Linked DNA regions of Homo sapiens: region 1 is linked to region 2. Evidence: fine-mapped expression QTL. Tissue or cell type: tibial nerve. Region 2 holds a variant in brackets; the other region holds the start of a gene. All regions are shown on one strand. Distances are between the middles of the regions.

Region 1 (10,146 bases), 140 kb after region 2:
AAGTTTTCTGTCACTTGCAATTGAGAGTCACAATTAGTATAACCTTAGTCTTTATAGCCTCCACTTTTTCTTTTCTTTGTGAGACACGATCTCACTCTGTTGTTCAAGTGGAGTGTAGTGGCACAGTCACAGATCACAGCAGCCTCAAATTCCTGGGCCCAAGCAATCCTCTCACCTCAGCCTCCCTAATAGCTGGGACTACAGGCACAGTGCCACCAAGCCCAGCTAATTTTTTTGTTTTTGATTTTTAGTAGAGATCAGATTTATGTTGCTCAGGCTGGTCTTGAGTTCCTGAACTCAAGCAGCCCCCTGCCTTAACCTCTCAAAGTGTTAGGATTGCAGGAGTAAGCCACCGTGCCCATTTTCTTTTCTTTCTTTCTTTTTCTTTTTTTTTCTGAGACAGAGTCTCGCTCTGTCACCCAGGCTGGAGTGCAGTGGTGCAATCTCAGCTCACTGCAACCTCCGCCTCCTGGGTTCAAGCGATTCTCCTGCCTCAGCCTCCTGAGTAGGCGGGATTACAGGCATGTGCTACCATGCCCAGCTAATTTTTGTATTTTTAGTAGAGACGGGGGGGGTTTCACCATGTTGGCCAGGCTGGTCTTCAATTCCTGACCTCATGATCTACCCACCTCGGCCTCCCAAAGTGCTGGGATTACAGGCAAGAGTCACTGCGCCCGGCCTTTTTTTTTTTTTTTTTTAAGAGACAGGGTCTCACTCTGTCACCCAGGCTGGAGTGCAGTGACGCTCGCTGCAGCTGCGAACTCCTGAGCTCAAGTAATCCTCCCACTTCAGCCTCCAGAGTAGCTGGGACTACAGGTATGCACCACTATGCCCTGCTAATATTTTTATTTTTTGTAGAGACAGGGATCTCACTATGTTGCCCAGGCTGGTCTCAAACTCTGGAGCTCAAGCGATCCTCCCACCTCAGCCTCCCAAAGTGCTGGGACTACAGGCCTGAGTCAGCCTGTCTGGCCTTTTTTTTTTTTTTTTTTTTTATTCAACAGATATTCACGGCATACCTGCAAGATTCCACGCCCATAGTTTTTTTGGCCAGGACTGAAAGTGCTTCTATCCCCAAACTGCAAGTCTTTGAAAGGGCAAGCTTTTGCCACTTGGTTTAGCTGCTCAAACCACATTGGCTAATGCCTGTATATGTCTGGTGCCAAGGTTTTTGCTCAATAACTTCTCTACCTCTTATGCAACCCCTCACTTGACACCCTCTACCTGTTGGCATCCAGAAGAAAATTCCACCCTCCAGGTGAGCAAGGAGTTGTCACCTCCCTTTTCATGGACACCATACTTCCTAATGCAGCCTATCTTTACCTCAGTGTTTTCAGCCATGTTGTAGGTATCAGTGTTGCTAATCTCCACCTGACCCTGCCTTGTCTACAGAACTGGCAATAACTGATTCTTGTTTTTATAATAGGTATCATTCCCATTCTCATTTCATTTCTCTCATCTGAAATATGTCCCTGTGGTTCAGAATGAACCCTAACTTTAGCTGGCCAGTTCTTATGGACTGAATTGTGCCCACCCAAATTCATATGTTGAAGCCCTAACCCCAAATGTCTCTACACTTGGCCTTAATTATTTAGATTAATTAAAGGTAATTAAGGCTGGCCAGACATGGTGGCTCACATCTGTAATTCCAGCACTTTGGAAAGCAGAGGCGGGAGAACGACTTGAGCTCAGGAGTTTGAGACCAGCCTGGCCAACACAGTGAAACCCCGTCTCTACTAAAAATACAAAAATTAGCCAGGCATGGTGGCGTGCACCTGTAATGCCAGCTACTCGGGAGGCTGAGGCAGGAGAATTCCTTGAACCCGGAGGTGGAGGCTGCAGTGATCCGAGATGGTGCCACTGCACTCCAGCCTGGGCGACAGAGCCAGACTCCATCTCAAAAAAAAAAAAAAAAAAAAAAAAAAAAAAAAAAAAAAAAAGGTAACTAAGGCTAAATAACATTATAAGGGTAGGGGATCCTAATCCAATAGAACTGGTGTCCTTATGAGAGGAAGAGACATCAGGGGTGTGTGTGTATACAGAAAAGGCCCTTGCATGTAATTGAAGGATTAAAAAAAAATGAGAAAAGGCCCTATGATGACACTGTGAGAACGTGGCCAACTGCAAGCCAAGGAGAGAGGCCTCAGGAGAAACCAAACCTGCCAACACCTTGATCTTGGGCTTCCAGCCTCCAGACTGTGACAAAATAAATTTGTGTTGTGGCCAGGCGCGGTGGCTCATGCCTGTAATCCCAGCACTTCGGGAGGCCAAGGCAGGTGGATCACCTGGTCGGGAGTTCAAGATCAGCCTGACCAACATGGAGAAACCCCGTCTCTACTAAAAATACAAAATTAGCCAGGCATGGTGGCGTAATCCCAGCTACCAGGGAGGGTGAGGCAGGAGAATCGCTTGAACCTGGGAGGCAGAGGTTCAGGTTAGCTGAGATGGCTCCACTGCACTCCAGCCTGGGCAACAAGAGCAAAACTCCGTCTCAAAAAAAAAAAAAAAAAATTAAGTCAGGCATGGTGGCATGTGCCTGTAGTCCCAGCTACTCAGGAGACTGAGGCAGGAGAGTCGCTTGAACCCGGGAGGTGGAGGTTGTGGTGAGCCAAGATCGTGCCACTGCACTCCAGCCTGGGCAACAGAGCGAGACTCCATCTCAAAAAAAAAAAAAATTGTGTTGTTTAAGCCACCCAGTCTGTGGTATTTTGTCATGGTGGCCCTAGCCAACTACTGTGCTAATCTTCTGTGTCTTTGTCCAAACCACTGATAACAATAAACAGGACAGAGCCCTGTGGCTCACCACTAGACACCTCCCTCCAGGCTGATATTAATCTGAAACAGTCCAAATAATCTAATTCTAATCTAATTAATTAACAACAATAACAATTTGCATTAGTTCCTATTTTTCTAACTTGTTCATAAAAATGCAGCAAGAACCATTTTCAATTTTTTTTTTTTTTTTTTTTTGGAGACAGGGTCTCACTCTGTCACTCAGGCTGGAGTGCAGAGGCGTGATCTCAGCTCATTGCAATCTCTGCCTCCTAGGCTCAAGTGATCCTCCCACCTCAGCCTCCCGGGAGCTGGGAGTACAGGCGCACACCACCACACTTGGCTAATTTTTGCATTTTTTATAGAGACACAGTTTCACCACGCTGCCCAGGCTGGTCTCAAACTCCTGAGCTCAAGTGATCCCACCTCAACCTCCAAACGTTCTGGGATTACAGGCATGAGCTACCCCATGTGGCCAAAACCCATTTTCAAAATGACTTCAGAAACACCACATCTATGTCATTTCAAGGATCGAACACATTAATATTAATAAGCTTATGCAAATTTCTCTGTGATCTTATGCCTCAGCTGACTCCTCTGGGCCTCAGATGCCCAGTTTGTGACATTTGGGGATAGGGAGTTCACCATCACAACCATCAACACTACCATTTATTGACAGCTTTCTAAGTATTAGGTTACTGTGCGAAGCACTGCAGACCCCTCTCTCATTTAATCCATCAACAATCCCCCTAGGTAGGAATAATTGGTCCTATTTTCCACATGAGTAAACTGGCTCAGAGAGGTCAAGATGCTTGCCCAAGGTCACAGAGCAGGTGAACACCAGAGCTGTAACTGGAATCCAGGTGGCTGCACTGAGTACAGGATTTGCATCTCCCTACCCCATTACCTGTATTTGTTCTTCTTCCTTGGTGTGAGGGTGGGGGTGCTGCCCCTTGAGGGGGTGGTCTCACAGCTCCCCTTTGCCCCCAAGGCCTTCGATGCCTCCTTGCCCACGCCTCTGGTTCTGTTAGCCTTCTCCACCCAGGGCGGATCGAAGTCCGGTGGGGTAGGCCGGGTGCCTGCTGGGCTGCCAAACAGAGTCTCATCCACATATGACGTCCTGGCCTTGACCCGGTAGCCACCTCGGCAGCGGTGCTGAAGGCCGAGGGTCTGCATCCCACTGACGGCCAGCTCCACGGGGGTCTTCATGCTGCCTGTGGTCCCTGGTGACAGCAGGTGTGCTCTGCCGGCCAGGCCCTGCTTCCGAGGCTCCCTGTGAGAGGAGGTCAGAGTAGCACCCCTGAGCCACAGAAGTGCTAATGGAGGAAGACCGGTAGTGTCTGAAGTTCTCATCCCAAGGGTTTAGTTCTCTCTCAACCAGTCTCTCAAAGGGGAGCTGTCAACTTCAGGGGGCATTTTGGAAATTTCTTTGGCTTTTTTTTAGTTGTCATAATGGTGGTGAAAGGGGGGCTACTGGCAATTATTTACAGAATGACTCTGGCGGTGAAGGAGAGATGACACCTGTGTCTATTTAGGCACCAACCAGAAAACACACTATGGTGGTAGGGGAGACAGGCACTTTCCTATGTGTACTGATGGGGGTGGGGGCAATGACAGCCAGCGTGGATCCCATGCCTACCTCCTGCAAAGAGCTTTACAAGCATTGTTTCATTTAATCCTCTCAACAGCACTGTGAAGTAGCTTCGAATTTGTCCATTTTACGGATCACAAAACTGAGGTGAAGTCACATGTGTAGGTCACACCTATAAAGCTAAAACGGTGGAAGTGAAATCTGAGTCCAGAGCTTGTGTACTTGGCTACACTGCTATCGGGAGATCACCGCCGCCCCCACCGCCCCACATTCTGCGACTCCCAAATCAATGACCCGATTAAAAAGTGCCCGAGGTCCCTGCATTTTTGGGTTGTTCTCCTACCTGAGCATCTTGGCTCGTAGGCATCGGGATCCTCAGGGACCCGTCCCCGCACCTTCTTCCCACCAGGTCTGGACCCGTCGGTGAGGGCGCGGGGGCGCGCGGTGCATCCGGGATCCCCGTCAATCTGCAGCCCGGAATGCCTGGGGCCCCGGACCCCCGGCAGCCTAGGCCGTCCCGGGGCACCGCGCGCGGACGGACTCACCCGAGGAGCCGGCACAGGCTACGTGTGAACGGCCCGCGAATCCAGAAACCCAGAACCCAGCACTTTGCACCCAGCAACCAGGGAGCAGCCAGCAGCACTGCGGACGCGGCCCGGACCATTCGCGCCCGCGGATGGGGGGAGTCCGCCCAGGGGCGGGCGCCACGCTCCTGAGGCCCAGGAGGTCCCTAAACATGGAGAGGGTCCTCTGGTGCCACTCACTCAGGTGCGTGTGTACTAGGCCGCCGAGGGCCGCAGGCACTGGCGAAAGCTCAGCGGAGGTCACGTGGTCACCGCACCTCCCCCCCCCCCACGCAGTTGGTGCGCTCCTCAGGCCACGCCCCCTTCTGCGTTCCCAGCGCGCGGCCCGAATGGCGGCCGACAAGGGCCCGGCGGCTGGACCTCGGTCGCGAGCTGCCATGGCCCAGTGGAGGAAGAAGAAAGGGCTCCGGAAGCGCCGAGGCGCGGCCTCCCAGGCCCGCGGCAGCGACTCGGAGGACGGCGAGTTTGAGATCCAGGCGGAAGATGACGCCCGGGCCCGGAAGGTAGGCGCGTGGGGCTGGGACGCATGTTCGGGCCCGAGACCCGGCTCCGGGCAGCGCCTCGAGGCCTCAGTTTCCCCAGCTGGGGATTGGGCTCCGCAGAGTGTGGGGAGGGAGGCTGCCGACCCGAGGACCGGTCTTGGGACCGCCGGCCTGAGCACGTGTCTCGGGGCTTGTCAGGCTCAGGGTTCCGCGGCCAGAGCCTTGGGATCCCGGGGCTGGAGCCTGCGGGCCTTCCTGCCGGGTTTTGGTCGCGCGTCTCTCATTGGCTGCCTCCTGCTCGTGGGGCGGATCCTGGCTCCCTTTCGCCCAATGAAAAGTGCGGGTGCAGAAGATCTGACTTTGAGAGTTTGGAGCGTTCTTGGGAGGTTGAATTAAGGGGAGGCCAGACTGCGTGGCTTGAGACAGTGTGACGCCTCCAAACCTCTGGGAAACGAATTAAAACAATTTTTTTTGAGACAGAGTCTTGCTCTGTTGCTCATGCCGGAGTGCAGTTGTGTAGCCACGCCTTGCTACAGCCTCCGCCTCCTGGGCTCAAGCGATCCTCCCACGTCAGCCTCTCCGGTAGCTGAGACCACAGACATGCGCCACCACGCCCGGATAATTTTTAAATTTTTTGTAGAGACGGGGGTCTCCCTATGTTGCCCAGGATGGTCTCGAACTTCTGGCCTCAAGCAGTCCTCCCACTTCTGCTTCCCAAAGTGTTGGGATTAACAGGCGTGAGCCCGGCCAGTTTGTGTTTGTTGACCGTTTACTATGTGCCAGGCTCCATGCTAAGAGCTGTACGAGCCTTATTATTTAATCCTCACACCAACGTTGTGCTAACACCACCAGCAACTGTCATCTTCATTTTTCTACAGGAGGAAACTGAGGCCTAGAGGGTTAAGAAATAGTCAAAGGCCTGGTGTAGTGGCTACACGCCTGTAAACCCAGCACTTAGGGAGGCTGAGGTGGGAGGATTGCTTGAGGTCAGGAGTTCAAGATCAGCCTGGGCAACATAGGCAGACCCCGTCTCTACAAAAAATTAAAAAATTAGGATGGCCGCGGTGGCTCACGCCTGTAATCCCAGCACTTTAGGAGGCTGAGGCAGGCGGATCACCTGAGGTCGGGAGTTCAAGACCAGCCTGGCCAACATGGTGAAACCCTGTCTCTACTAAAAATACAAAAATAGCCAGGTGTGGTGGCATGTGCCTGTAATCCCAGCTACTCGGGAGGCTGAGGCAGGAGAATCGCTTGAAACTGGGAGTCAGAGGTTGCAGTGAGCCGATATTGCACCACTGCACTCCAGCCTGGGTGACAGAGCAAGACTCTGTCTCAAAAAATAAAAATTAGCCTGGCTTGGTGGCGCCCACCTGTGGTCCCACCTCCTGGAGAGGCAATGTGGGAGGATCACTTAAACCTGGGCGGCGGAGAGTACAGTGAGCTGTGGCTACACAACTGCACTCCATCATAAGCAACAGAGCAAGACTCTGTCTCCAAAAAAAGAAAAAAAAAAAAAAGGGAGATCCCATCTTTACAAAAAAAGAGAGAAAGCAGCTTGACCAAGACCTCACAGCTTGTGAGTACAAGAGCCAGGAGATTCAAACTTGAGACTGTCTGATTCCAAGGCCTGTGCCGTTTCCATTACTGAATGTCATGTGTATGCACATGAAGGGATGGGTGTGAGCACCAATGGGGCAGAAGGGCTGCGCCCATTATTTCCCACAGTCCTGTTCCCAGCGGGTGCCTGGCACCAGGTAGGCTCAGGGCAAGATGAGTAAGTGGACATTTATATGAAGAGAAAGGATCACACTCCAAGGCAGGAACTAGAAGAGACCTCATCCCACTGTCCCTCTCTCATCTTCCAGCCTAGCCAGTACCTGGCACACAGTAGGTGCTCAACAAATGTAGAGAAACTACTAAAGGTAATGAACAGCACAGGCGGGCAGAGGTGGTTATTACCAAAGAAGAGGAGTCTAAGTGTAGTTCAGACCAAGGGCTTCTCACGGCACTGCCCTGTGTTCAAATTTGGCCCAACCTTGCACTGGCTGTGGGACATTGGAGAGGTTGCTTAACCTCTCTGTGCCCGTTTCCACATCCGTAGAAGGCAAGTAAATGATTATATATGTTTCAAAGGTTGTTGGCCCGGTGCCGTGGCTCATGCCCGTAATCCCAGCACTTTGGGAGTCCGAGGAGTGAGGATCACTTGATGCCAGGAGTTCGAGACCAGCCTGGGCAACATGCATGGCGAGACTGCATCTACAAAAAATACAAAAATTAGCCAGGCATGGTGGTGTGTGCCTGTAGTCCCAGCTACTTGGGAGGCTGAGGTGGGAGGATCACCTGAGCTAGGTGAGCCGTGATTGCCCCACTGCACTCCAGCCTGGGAGACTGAGTGAAACTCTGTCTCAAAAAAAAAAAAAAAGTGTTGAAAAGACCAAAGGAGGCTGGGCGTGGTGGCTCATGCCTGTAATCCGAGCACTTTGGGAGGCCAAGGTGAGCGGATCACTTGAGGTCGGGAGTTTGAGACCGGCCTGGCCAACATGGTGAAACCCCATCTCTACTGAAAATACAAAAATTAGCCGGGCTGGTGGCATGTGCCTGTAGTCCCAGCTAGTTGGGAGGCTGAGGCAGGAGAATTGCTTGGACCCAGGAGGTGGAGGCTGCAGTGAGCCAAGATCCTGCCACTGCACTCCAGCCTGGGTGACTGAACGAGACTGTCTCAAAAAAAAAAAAAGAAGAAGACTGAAGGACATGCTGTTCATACATTCAGTAGCTATTGCAGGCGCCTGTGTGTCCCAGGCACCTTGTTTTCATGTACCTAGAGCAGGGGTTGGCAGACCTATCAAGGGCCAGATGGTAAATCTTTTTTTTAGGTTTTGTTGGGCCATATAAGATCACTGTCTTTTTTGTTGGATTTCTTTTTCTTTTCTACAACCCTTTAAAAAGTAAAAACCGTTCTAAACTCACAGACTGTTCAAGACAGGCCATGGCTCTGCCCTAGAGGATTGTAGTTAATCTTAGAGGGTCACAGTGAAAAGAACACAGTCTCTGAAGCCAGGGTTCACATCCCTCACCCACTACCTGCTGGCTGTGTGACCTTGGGCACGTCACTGTATCTCTGTGCCTCAGTTTTCTTCTCTGTAAAATGGACAGAACAATAGTACCCACTTCATCAGATTGTTGTGAGGATTAAGTGGGTTAATTTGTATAATTCTCAGAGCAGCACCTAGCTTATAGTAGATACCTTGTAAGTTTCAGCCACTCTTATGAATTGCTGCTCCGTAAATGCTTTTTTTTTTTTCTTTTTTGGTAAAGATGGGGTTTTACCATGTTGCCCAGGCTAGTCTGGGAACTCCTGGGCTCAAATGATCCACCCACCTCAGCCTCCCAGTGCTGGGATTACAGGCGTGAGCCACCACGCCTGGCCATGAATGCTATTTTTAAGAGAAAGGGGACAGCCCTGTAGTCCAAGAAGGTTCCCCAGAGGAGGTGTCTGGATTGGATTTAGCTGTGCCAGGACAAGTGGGTCCTGGGTGAGCAGAAAGGAGGCCAGGCATGAGACAGACCAGAGATCAGAAAGGAGATTGGTTGGCGGCTGATGGGGCGGGGGTAGGGGGCGGGAGATCTTGGAAAAGTCTAGTACTTCACATATAGTAGGCATTTCGATTGGCTCTTTAATGTATTTAGGGGCTGGGTGTGGTGGTTCATGCCTGTAATCCCAACACTTTGGGAGGCCAAGAAGGGAGGAATACTTGAGGCCAGGAATTCAAGACTAGCCTGGGCAATGCAGTAAGACCTCATCTCTACAAAAAAAAAAAAATAAATACAAAATAAAAAAATTAGCCAGATGTGGTAGTATACGCCTGTAGTCCCAGCTACTCAGAAGTCTAAGGTGGGAGACTCACTTGAGCCTAGGAGTTCAAGGCTGCAGTGAGCCATGCCTGCACTGCTGTACTCCAGCCTGGGTGACAGAGTAAGACCCTGTCTCTTAAAAAAAAAAAAAAAATGTACTTACTTTTGGGATTGAGATTCAAACCGAGACAGTCTATCTGCAGACCCCACTCTAAACTTCTGTCCTGGCCCAGCCAAAGGAGAACTTACTAGCAAAAAAGTGACGTGATCTGGCGGAAGCATCATTGGCTTGAATGGGGGAGAGAGGGCAACAGCACAGGCCCCTTCCCTGCCCCCTGTGGTCCCACTGTGCCTGGAGTGACACCACCTCTCTGTCCTTCCCTCCCAGCTGGGACCTGGAAGACCCCTGCCCACCTTCCCCACCTCGGAATGCACCTCGGATGTGGAGCCGGACACCCGGGAGATGGTGCGTGCCCAGAACAAGAAGAAGAAGAAGTCTGGAGGCTTCCAGTCCATGGGTGGGTGCAACTTGGCATCAGGGACTCTGCGGGAGTGGCAGCTGGAGGTCAACCCCGCCTCTGCACTCCATCACTGATGTCCACTCTGGGCCCAGCACTGTGGTTGGGTAGACCGGGGTAGCAGATGTGGTCCTCCAGTCATTCAGGGCCTTCTAGTGGGGCAGCGGGCCTGACACAGGAGAGGGCAGTTAGAACAGGCCTCAGGAAAGGCAATGCAGATGCAGGAACAGGCAAAGACAGTCGGGGACTTATTGCCTGCAGAGGGACATTTCAGAAGGAGGGAAAGGATGGAATGGGTGGGTGGTGTGGGGACACCTGGCTGGCCAGAAATAAAGCCTGACTCTGTT
Region 2 (10,146 bases):
CAGGCAACAGGCAATTAAGCCCATTTTACAGATGGGAAAGTGGTTTGTGGTTACTGTGGTTATAAAATTGAGTACCCCCTCTTGGAGCGTGCTCCTTGGGGGCAGGAAAACTGGGAGATCATACCAGATAATTGTGCCAGATAATCTCTCCAAGTTATTGAGCACTTAGATCAGCCTTGTGCCCACAAGTCCTCCCCCAAACCCCGTGAGGTGGGAGTGATTATCTCTGTGCTATAGATGAAGACTCCAAGGTTCAGGGAGGTGAAGGTGGCCAGGAGGAAAGTGGCAGAGCCAGGATGAGAACCCTTGGCTGCTTCATGCTAAATCCATCCCCTTCCCCTCTAGTCCACCGCCTCACAGGACAGATGGGGCAGCTGCCTTTCTGGAAGTCCCCACCATCCAGGGAGCCTGCAGGCTGGGAAAGGCCCCCCCAGCCCCTTACCTTAGGTCCTTTTCAAGTAGTCATTAATGCAACAAATAGTTATTGAGCACCTACTATGTGCCAGGGCCTGTGCCATGTGCTGAGGGGATAGCAGGAAGCAGAGAGCCTGGTCCCTGCCCCCCTGGAGCTTATACTCTAGTGGGGTCATGGATGAGAAGCAAGTTGACAAATCATTCCACAGGGTGAGGGGGAGGGGGGTGCTGCTTTGCTTAGGCTATCATGGAAGGCCTCTCTGAGGACATGACATTTAGACTGAGACCTGAATGGCTTATGAAGATCCAGGGGAAGTGAGGGAACAGTAGATGCAAAGGCCCTGGGGCAGGAGCAGAATGACAGATTTTGCAAAGTGGCTGGAACAGTGAGCAAGGGAGAAGGAAGGGAGACCAGGCAGGAGAGAACAGGGGCCCTGGGGACCACTGTAGACTTGGCTGTCAGTGGGAGGAAGGTGGGAGCCATGGGAGGCTTTAGAGCACAAGAGGATGTGATCTGATGTAAGTTTTTATAAGAATTCCAAGGTATTGAGTTGGTTACCCTTTCCTGTCCAGCCTGACCTCTGTGTGCACCTCTTTGGGTTTCCTGGGACTGAGTTAGTGACATAGGAAAGAGGGTGGGAAGGACTGGAAGGAAGTGAAGTCACTCCTTCCCTCCCCCAGACGCAGAGCAATCCCACCTTACTCTGTCTCTCTTGAGCAGAGAGCTGGGGAGGGGTCCTGAGGGACCTGGGGGAGGGCTGTGCAGCTCGGGGAGGGCAGAGCGAGACAGACTGCACAGTAATGTGATTTTGGAGGCCAGATTTGGGGGACCCACCTTGCTGACTCACTCTGCCATCAGGGAGATGGGGTGACTCCCTGCATCCTCCCTAGCTGACCCCGAGGACAGGGAGGAGGGAGGGCAGGAAGATAGTGAGAGGACAGGAAATGGAGGCTGCCCCTGCCCAGTTGGGCAGTTTCCTCAGGAGCTTCAGCGAGTAACTTTCAGGCGGAGCTGAGTTTGGAGCCACTTCTCAGTGGTGGGCTGTGTGCTCCTGGGCAAGCCACTTTGCCTCTCTGTGCCTCAGTTTTCTCATCTGTGAAGTGGAAACAATTGTGCCAACCTCCTGGGTCTCTGATGAAGACTGAATGGGTGAGATGATGCCCAGCACGGTGTGCAGCACAACTGTTAGGAGGGCCTACTCTGCCAGGCACTGTGCGAGACTTTAGTGGGAGGGGCAGATATTAAGCAAGTCTATGATCCTGCCTGGGTGCGGTGGCTCACACCTGTAATCCCAGCACTTTGGGAGGCCGAGGCAGGTGGATCACTTCAGGCCAGGATTTCGAGACCAGCCTGGCCAACATAGCAAAACCCCATCTCTACTAAAATACAAAAATTACCTGGGCATGGTGGTGGACGTCTGCAATCCCAGCTACTCGGGAGGCTGAGGTAGGAGAATCTCTTGAACCCATGAGATGGAGGTTGCAGTGAGCTGAGATCATACCACTGCCCTCCTGCCTGGGCGATGGAGTAAGACTCCATCTCAAAAAAGGAAAAAAAAAAAAAAAAGTAACTGGGAGGGCCAGCTAGGCTGGGAGTAGTCAGGGAGGGCTTCCTGCAAGAAGTGTCCTGGGAACCAAGAATTGGGTGGTGAATGTGGATTAAATAGAGGAAAAATAATCGTGGCACCAGGCAGAAGGAACAGCATGTACAAAAGCTGGACCAATGCCAGGAGGGTCTGGGCATTCCAGGACCTGACAGCTGACCAGACGAGCTTTACTGGAGACTGACAAGGGCAGAACACAGGGACCAAAAACAGGCAAAGGAGAGCTCTTCAGCAGCTGGAGGAGGGAGCACATTAGAAAGAGCCCCTCTGGTAAGATTGGGGGTAGGAGGCCAGATGAGAACCTCTGCAGTTGTTCTCCGTGCTGGTGGAGATGGAAGGAAGGGATGAATTCAAGTATTGTTTAAGAGAGAAAAATTTCTGGCCAGGCTTGGTGGCCCACCTGTGTAATCCCAGCACGTTGGAAGGCCGAGGCGGGAGGATCACTTGAGCCCAGGAGTTTGAGACTAGCCTGGCCAACAAGGCGAGACCCCTTCTCAACAAAAAATTTAAAAATTAGCCTCGTGTGATGCGCACCTGTGGTGCCAGCTACTCAGGAGGCTGAGGTAGGAGACTGCTTGAGCCTGAGTGGTTGAGGCTGGAGTGAGCTGTGATCACGCCACTGCACTCCAGCCTGGGTGACATAGACAGAACCTGTCTCTAAATAAATAAATAAATAAATAAATAATTAAAACTTAGATGATGATAATGCAACCTTTTTTTTTTTTTTTTGGAGACGTAGTTTCGCTCTTGTTGCCTAGGCTGGAGTGCAATGGTGCAATCTCAGCTCACTGCAACCTCTGCTTCCTGGGTTCAAGCGATTCTCCTGCCTTGGCTTCCCAAGTAGCTGCGATTACAGACATCTGCCACCATGCCCGGCTTTTTGTATTTTTAGTAGAGATGGTTTCACCATGTTGGTCAGGCTGGGCTCGAACTCCTGACCTCAGGTGATCCACCTGCCTTGGCCTCCCAAAGTGCTGGGATTACAGGTGTGACCCACCGCGCCCAGCCTATTTTTTTTTTTTTTTTTGAGACAGAGTCTCACTCTGTTGCCCAGCCTAGAGTGCAATGGTGTGATCTTGGCTCACTGCAACCTCCGCCTCCCGGGTTCAAGTTATTCTGCCTCAGCCTCCTGAGTAGCTGGGAACACAGGCACACGCCACCGTGCCTGGCTAATTTTTATATTTTTAGTGGAGATGGAGTTTCACCATGTTGGCCAGGCTGGTCTCAAACTCATGGGCTCAGGCACTGGGATTACAGATGTGAGCCACAATGCCTGGCCTCCATGTCCTTATCCCATTCCTGTCTAGGCTTGTGGGTGTTATTGCCCCCATTGTTCAGAGGAGAACACTGAGGTTAATTTACTTGCCCAAAATCACTCACCTAGAAGGACGCAAATTAGAATTTCAACCAGGCAGTTTCATGAGAGAGGAGGGCTCAGTAGAGGGAGCTGTACTGCCTCCCAATATGATTATTATTGTTCCTCCCAGAGGAGGAAATGGCAGCCCGCCTGCTTCCCTGGCCCCCATCTAGTGTCCTTCCTCCTTGTGCTGGGTGGGACCCTCTTTGTCAGAAACCCCTTGGGTGACTTTATCTCCCTGGGAAATTCCTGGGCCCCAGCAAAGCCACAGGCCCAGGCTTAGGGCAAGACTGAAACCCTCCCCCTCCCAGTATGGAAGGAGCCCAGCCTGACTGTTGCTTTTGGGTGGGAGCTGGGGATGGGATAAGGGAAGCTCAGGACAGAAACTTGAGACTTGCATCTGCATGTTTTGGTGGGAATAGTTGATGGAGATTCCCAAGCCTGGGTTGGGATGTGCACACCATCACTCCAGCCTGGGGCACAGACTTTCTGTAAAGAGCCAGATAGTAGGGCCGGGTTGTGGGCTCACATTTGTAGCTCCAGCCACTTGGGAGGTTGAAGTCGGGGGAATTCCTTAAGCCTAAGAGTTTGAGGCTGCAGTGAGCTATAATCATGCTTCTGCACTCCAGCCTGGGCAACAGTGAGACCTTGTCTCAAAAAAAAAAAAAGAGAGAGAAAGAAAAGAGGCCAGTCACAGTGCTCACACCTGTAATCCCAGCACTTTGGGAGGCGGAGGCTGGTGGATCACTTGAGGCCAGGAGTTTGAGACTAGCCTGGCCAACATGGTGAAACCCCATCTCTACTAAAAATAAAAAAATCAGCCAGGCGTGGTGGCACATATCTGTGATCCCAGCTCCTCCAGAGGCTGAGGCAGGATAATAATTTGAACCCAGGAGGCAAAGGTTGCAGTGAGCTGAGATCTCACCACTGTACTTCAGCCTGGGCAACAGAGTAAGACTCCGTCTCAAAATAAATAAGTAAATAAAAAAGAAAAAAGAAAAGAAAGAAAGAATAGAATAAGAGCTAGACAGTAAATATTTTCAGCTTTGTGGGCTACATGGTTTCTA[C/A]AACTACTCACTGCTCTCACAGTGCCTGAGTAGCCACAGATTGTACATCAACGAATGGGTGTGGCTGTGCCCCAGTAAATATTTATGGAAATGGAAACTTGAGTTTTATATAATTTTACATGTCATGGAAAATTCTTCTTTTGATTTATGTCTCCCAACCATTTAAAAATGTAAGAATCATTCTTGGCTTGCAGGCTGTGCATAACCAGATGGTGGGCTGGATGTGGTCCAGGGGCCGAAGTTTGCTGACCCTTGGCTTACCCATATGTTAAAGGGGAATCATTCCATTTGCCTCGCAGGAGTGTTGGAAAGGCTACACAAAATCACTTAGTCATTCAAGCAGCCATTAACACAAATGTATTAAGCCCCTACTACAGGCCAGGCTCAGGGCAAATACAAGAATGCAGACAAAAAAAATTCAGGGCTGGGCGCGGTGGCTCACGCCTGTAATCCCAGCACTTTGGGAGGCCGAGGCGGGTGGATCACAAGGTCAGGAGATCGAGATCATCCTGGCTAACACGGTGAAACCCATCTCTACTAAAAATACAAAAAATTAGCTGGGCGTGGTGGCGAGCGCCTGTAGTCCCAGCTACTCGGGAGGCTGAGGCAGGAGAATGGTGTGAACCTGGGAGGCGGAACTTGCCGTGAGCCGAGATAGCGCCACTGCAGTCTGGCCTGGGCGAAAGAGCGAGACTCCGTCTCAAAAAAAAAAAAAAAAATTAAGGCCAGGTTTGGTGGTTCACGCCTATAATCCCAGCACAATGGGAGGCTGAGGTGGGAGGATGGCTTGAGGCCAGGAGTTGAAGACCAGCCTAGGCAACATAGCAAGACCTCCATCTCTACAAAAAATAATTTTTAAAAAAATTAACTGGGTGTGGTGGTGCATGCCTGTAGTCCCAGCTACTTGGGAGGCAAAGGCAGGAGGATCACATGCGCCCAGGAGTTCGAGGCTGAAGTGAGCCATGATTGCCCCACTGCACTCCAGCCTGAGTGACAAAGCACCTGGTCTCTAAAATAATAAAATTCAGTAAACAAGGAAATGAACAAAATAAAGATTGTGATAACTGCTGTGAATGCAGAAAACTGGGTATTAATAGTGGAGATAGGGGTAATAACTACTTTACATGGAAAGTCTCTGAGGAGGGCAAATTTGAACACCTGTAATCTCATTTGATTCTTTTATCAATGGGGTTGGTATAATTAGTCCCATTTTACAAATGAGACTGAAGCTCAAAGAGAGGAAGGGAATTGCTACAGATACAGCTCTTAGATGGTAGAGCTGGTTGGGCATGGAGGCTCACACCTGTAATCCCAGTACTTTGGGAGGCTGAAGTAGGTGGATCACTTGAGGTCAGGAGTTCAAGACCAGCCTGGCCAACACAGTGAAACCTCATCTTTACCAAAAATACAAAAATTAGCCAGGTGTGGTGTTGTGTGCATGTAGTTCCAGCTACTCAGGTGGCTGAGGCAGGAGAATCACTTGAACCCAGGAGGTGGAGGTTGCAGTGAGCCAAGATTGCTCTACTGCACTCCAGCCTAGGCGACAGAGTGAGACTCTGTCTCAAAGGAAAAAAAAGGGGCTGGGCGCAGTGGCTCACACCTGTAATCCTAGCACTCTGGGAGGCCAAGGCAGGTAGATCACTTGAGGTCAGAAGTTTGAGACCAGCCTGGCCAACGTGGTGAAACCCCATTTCTACTAAAAATACAAAACTTAGCCGGGCGTGTCGGTGGGCACCTGTAGTCCCAGCTACTCGGGAGGCTGAGGCAGGAGAATCAGTTGAACCCGAGAGGTGGAGGTTTCAGTGAGCCGAGATTGTGCTATTGTACTCCAGCCTGGGTGACAGAGGGAGACTCTGTCTCCAAAAAAAAAAAAAAAAAAAAAGGTAGAGCTGAGTGGCTGAGTGGGTATTATGCTCAGGTTGTCCTGATCTCAAAAAAAGAAAAGTTTTTTTTTTTGTTTGTTTGTTTTTTTTTGAGACAGGCTTGCTCTGTCACCCAGGCTGGAGAGCAGTGGTGCCATCATAGCTCACTGCAGCCTCAACCTCCCAGACTCAAGCAATCCTCTCACCTCAGCCTCTGAAGTAGCTGGAACCACAGGCGTGTGCCACCATGCCTGGCTCATTTTTAAATTTTTTTGTAGCAATGGGGTCTTACTATGTTACCCAAGTTGGTCTCAAACTCCTGGGCTTAAGCGATCCTCCTGCCTCAGCCTCCCAAAGTGTTGGGATTACAGGTGTGAGCCAGTTTACCTGGCCACAGATTTCATCTTCCCAGCTGGCATGTGCTTTCTGAGGACAGGACACTGTAGAAAGATTGAGGGGTTGGGGCAGGGCTGGGGGTTTCAGTCTCTGCTCAGGGGATACTGTATGGGTGGGTAGAGCTCTTAGCAAAAATTGGTGAGAAGGCCAGAGGCTCAGAGATAAGAAATCTCACTTCCAGTCTGGTGTTAGTGGGAGTTCAGAGAGGGCTTGTGGAGGAGGTGGAACTGTGGTTTGACAAAGCTTTTAAAAAATTATAATGAAATACACATAACCTAAAATTTACTGTCTTAGCTTTTTTTGTTGTTGTTTTTTTTTGAGATGGAGTCTCACTTTGTCACCCAGGCTGGAGTGCAGTGGTATGATCTTGGCTCACTGCAACCTCTGCCTCCTGGGTTCAAGCGATTCTCCTGCTTCAGCCTCCTGAGTAGCTGGGACTACAGGTGGATGTCACCACGCCTGGCTCATTTTTGTATTTTTAGTAGAGACGGGGTTTCCCCATGTTGACCAGGCTGGTCATGAACTCCTGACCTCAAGTGATCCGCCTACCTCGGCCTCCCAACGTGCTGGGATTACAGGCATGAGCCACCACACCTGGCCAGACTTGCAGTTTAACAATGACATTCCTATCACATTGATCTGAATAAGGCTGCTCATAGCCAATGTGGGTGCAGGCTTATGAGAATTGCTTATTTCCCATTCCTGGTGGGAGTGTATGTAGGTAGAGCTTGGCCAGGGCATTTTGGCAAAATCTAGCAATGTTGAAGATCCCTTGTCAGGGCCTTGAGCATTTCTTTTGGACTGTACTATTTTGGTGGGCTTTTGTTGACTTCCAGTTGCCAGTTTATTGTTCTAGAACCACTTATAAGCATAGTAGGCTAGAGGTGCTGGGGAACTAAAACCTCCATCTAGCAGTCCTCACCCAATGGCTGATGAGAGTTGGTGTATAAATATCCCAGCTCCCTTGCCTCCTGATTAAGCTCATGGTGGTGGTAACTGGCTCAACCCAGCCTTCGTTGGCAGCTATCCCTTCTCTGTACCACTTCTTTTCTCCTATTTCTTTTATTTTTTTCTTTTGAGACAGGGTCTCACTCTGTCACCCAGGCTGGACTGCAGTGGTACAATCATAGCTCTCTGCAACCTTGAACTTCCAGGCTCAGGTGCTCCTCCCACCTCCTCCTCCTGAGTAGTTGGGACTACAGGCGTATGCCACCAAGCCCGGCTAGTTTTTTTTGTATTTTTTGTAGAGATGGAGTTTTGTCATGTTGCCCAGGCTGGTCTCGAACTCCTGAGGTCAAGTGATCCTGCAGCCTTGGCCTCCCAAAATGCTACAGTTACAGGCGTGAGCCACCACACCCGGGCCCACTTCCCTTTCTCTATGTTTGTGTTCCTCAGGTCTCCCAAACATACTATGTCCATCTCAATCTTTGTCTCTGAGTCAGCTTCTGGAGGAACCCAGACCAGGATACCCTCTGATTCAGCACTTTCTCTTCTCAAATCTTCTCTGACAACATTTTTCTCATATGTGCTCAGAGAGTCATGTGTGAGGAAGCTCATTGGCTATATTGAAAAACTAGGCATACCCAAATGCCCAGTAGGGAAATGTTTACCTCAGTGATGTATCACCCATAGTATGAAATACTCTGCTGCAGTGAAAGACTCTGTGGGGAGGCAGGGGAGAACAGTGGGCCCTAGAGCCTAAAACTGCCTGGGTTCCAACCTTGACCCTCCCACTGAGTGCACACGGACATTGTCTCAGTCTCCTTAACTGTTTAATGGGCATGATAATAGTTCCTTCCTCGCAGACTGTTGTGCAGAGTAATTGAGATACATATTTTTTTTTTTTGAGACAAGATCTCATTCTATTCCCCAAGCTAAATGCAGTATTGCAGCCTCAACCTCCTGGGCTCAGGTGATCCTCCCACCTCAGTCTCCTGAGTAGCTGGGACTACAAGTGCACATCACCATGCCTACCTAATTTTTTATTTTATTTTTTTGCAGAGATGGGGTCTTGCTATGTTGTCCAGGCTGGTCTTGAAATCCTGGGTTCAAGCAATCCTCCCACCTCAACCTCCCAAAGTGCTGGGATTATAGGCATGAGCCACTGCCCCCAGCCATCATAGAATTATTGTACAGATTAATTGAGATACATTTTAAGCTCTTAGCACTATGCTTTGCATATAGAAATCACTATAGTATGTTTCAAATTCTGTATATTAAGGTATATTAATATATATATATATATAATGGTAAAAGCAAATTATAGAAACAAGAGATTTGGGATGGATCCATTTCTGTTAAACAAAACAAAGTGTGTAATAGGATATATATACAAATATAATTGATCTGAGAAATGTCTGTAAGGATGTGCTTCAAACTAATTATGGTGGGACCACTGGAGAGGGGGATTTACGGAGGGCAGGGATAAGAAAGCGGAATTTAGAAATCTTATGTATTGGTTTTTTTAAAAAACAAATATGTATTCATGAATTACTTATGTCAATTTCAAGCAGACGTTTATTTTTAAAATTAAAAGTGCATCCATAGTTGGCACCCAGAGGGTATGGTGGCCTTGGAGACCAGGCTGAAGGGACATTATGTTTAGCTGCTTAGATGGGCCTAGTCTAGTTCTCAGGGAAGTCTCTGCCGCTGATGTCCCCCTCCCTGTCTTCCTGCAGTGCCGCAAGGTGTGTGGCCTGAATGTCTCTGACCGCTGTGACTTCATCCGGACCAACCCTGACTGCCACAGTGATGGGGGGTACCTGGACTACCTGGAAGGCATCTTCTGCCACTTCCCTCCCAGCCTCCTCCCTCTGGCTGTCACTCTCTACGTGAGGCCCTGCCCTGGGGGGCTGGTGAGAGGGGCTGGTGTCTCCAGCTGGACTTGACTCTCCCTTCCTCGCCCGCTCCCCACCCAGGTTTCCTGGCTGCTCTACCTGTTTCTGATTCTGGGAGTCACCGCAGCCAAGTTGTGAGTTTGGCTCTGGGCTCCGGTCTGGCTTATCAATGGGAGGAGGGGTCCCAGGAGGCTGACATTCGGTCACCCTCAGTTTGGGGGAAGGATAGGGGTCCGGGGCCGGTTACTACGGAAATGCTTCCCGTCCGCTTTTTCTCCGTAGTTTCTGCCCCAACTTGTCGGCCATTTCTACCACACTGAAGCTCTCCCACAACGTGGCAGTATCCTTTTGTCCAGTGTCCTGCACCCTGGAGGGAGGGCAGTTGTGGGGAGGCTGGGAGATAGGGTCATGTCTATCCCCGTGTGGGGAAGCTGGGGGATAGGGTCGAAGGCCTGGGTGGGCTGCAGCTGCGATCCTGGCCCGCCTTGACATGCTCCCCACATGGCGTCACCTTCCTGGCATTTGGGAATGGTGCACCTGACATCTTCAGTGCCCTGGTGGCCTTCTCTGACCCGCACACAGCCGGCCTGGCCCTTGGGGCACTGTTTG

The links. PIP is the estimated chance that this variant, and not a neighbour inherited with it, causes the effect. A credible set is the group of variants that fine-mapping cannot tell apart.
Region 1: it holds the start of RITA1, and the variant in region 2 is the best candidate, but not a certain one, in a credible set for the expression of RITA1 in tibial nerve (GTEx, PIP 0.63).

The regions. Positions count from the first base shown.
Region 1 is chr12:113,180,582-113,190,727 of GRCh38, reverse strand. It overlaps RITA1 (RBPJ interacting and tubulin associated 1), which reads right to left and starts at 5,007. Exons shown (of 4, transcript NM_032848.3): 1 at 4,707-5,007; 2 at 4,412-4,543; 3 at 3,680-4,045. The coding sequence starts at 3,981. It overlaps DDX54 (DEAD-box helicase 54), which reads left to right and starts at 5,250. Exons shown (of 20, transcript NM_024072.4): 1 at 5,250-5,450; 2 at 9,670-9,799. The coding sequence starts at 5,277. RefSeq lists enhancers at 3,366-4,015, 4,016-4,666, 4,667-5,316, 5,354-5,433 and a silencer at 4,724-4,863.
Region 2 is chr12:113,320,581-113,330,726 of GRCh38, reverse strand. It overlaps SLC8B1 (solute carrier family 8 member B1), which reads left to right. Exons shown (of 16, transcript NM_001358345.2): 3 at 9,379-9,531; 4 at 9,619-9,671; 5 at 9,820-9,877; 6 at 10,041-10,146. Among named protein-coding and RNA genes, the nearest start is that of SLC8B1, 9.5 kb to the left of the region's middle. RefSeq lists a silencer at 8,036-8,236. The variant C/A (reference allele first, on the strand shown) is at 4,443.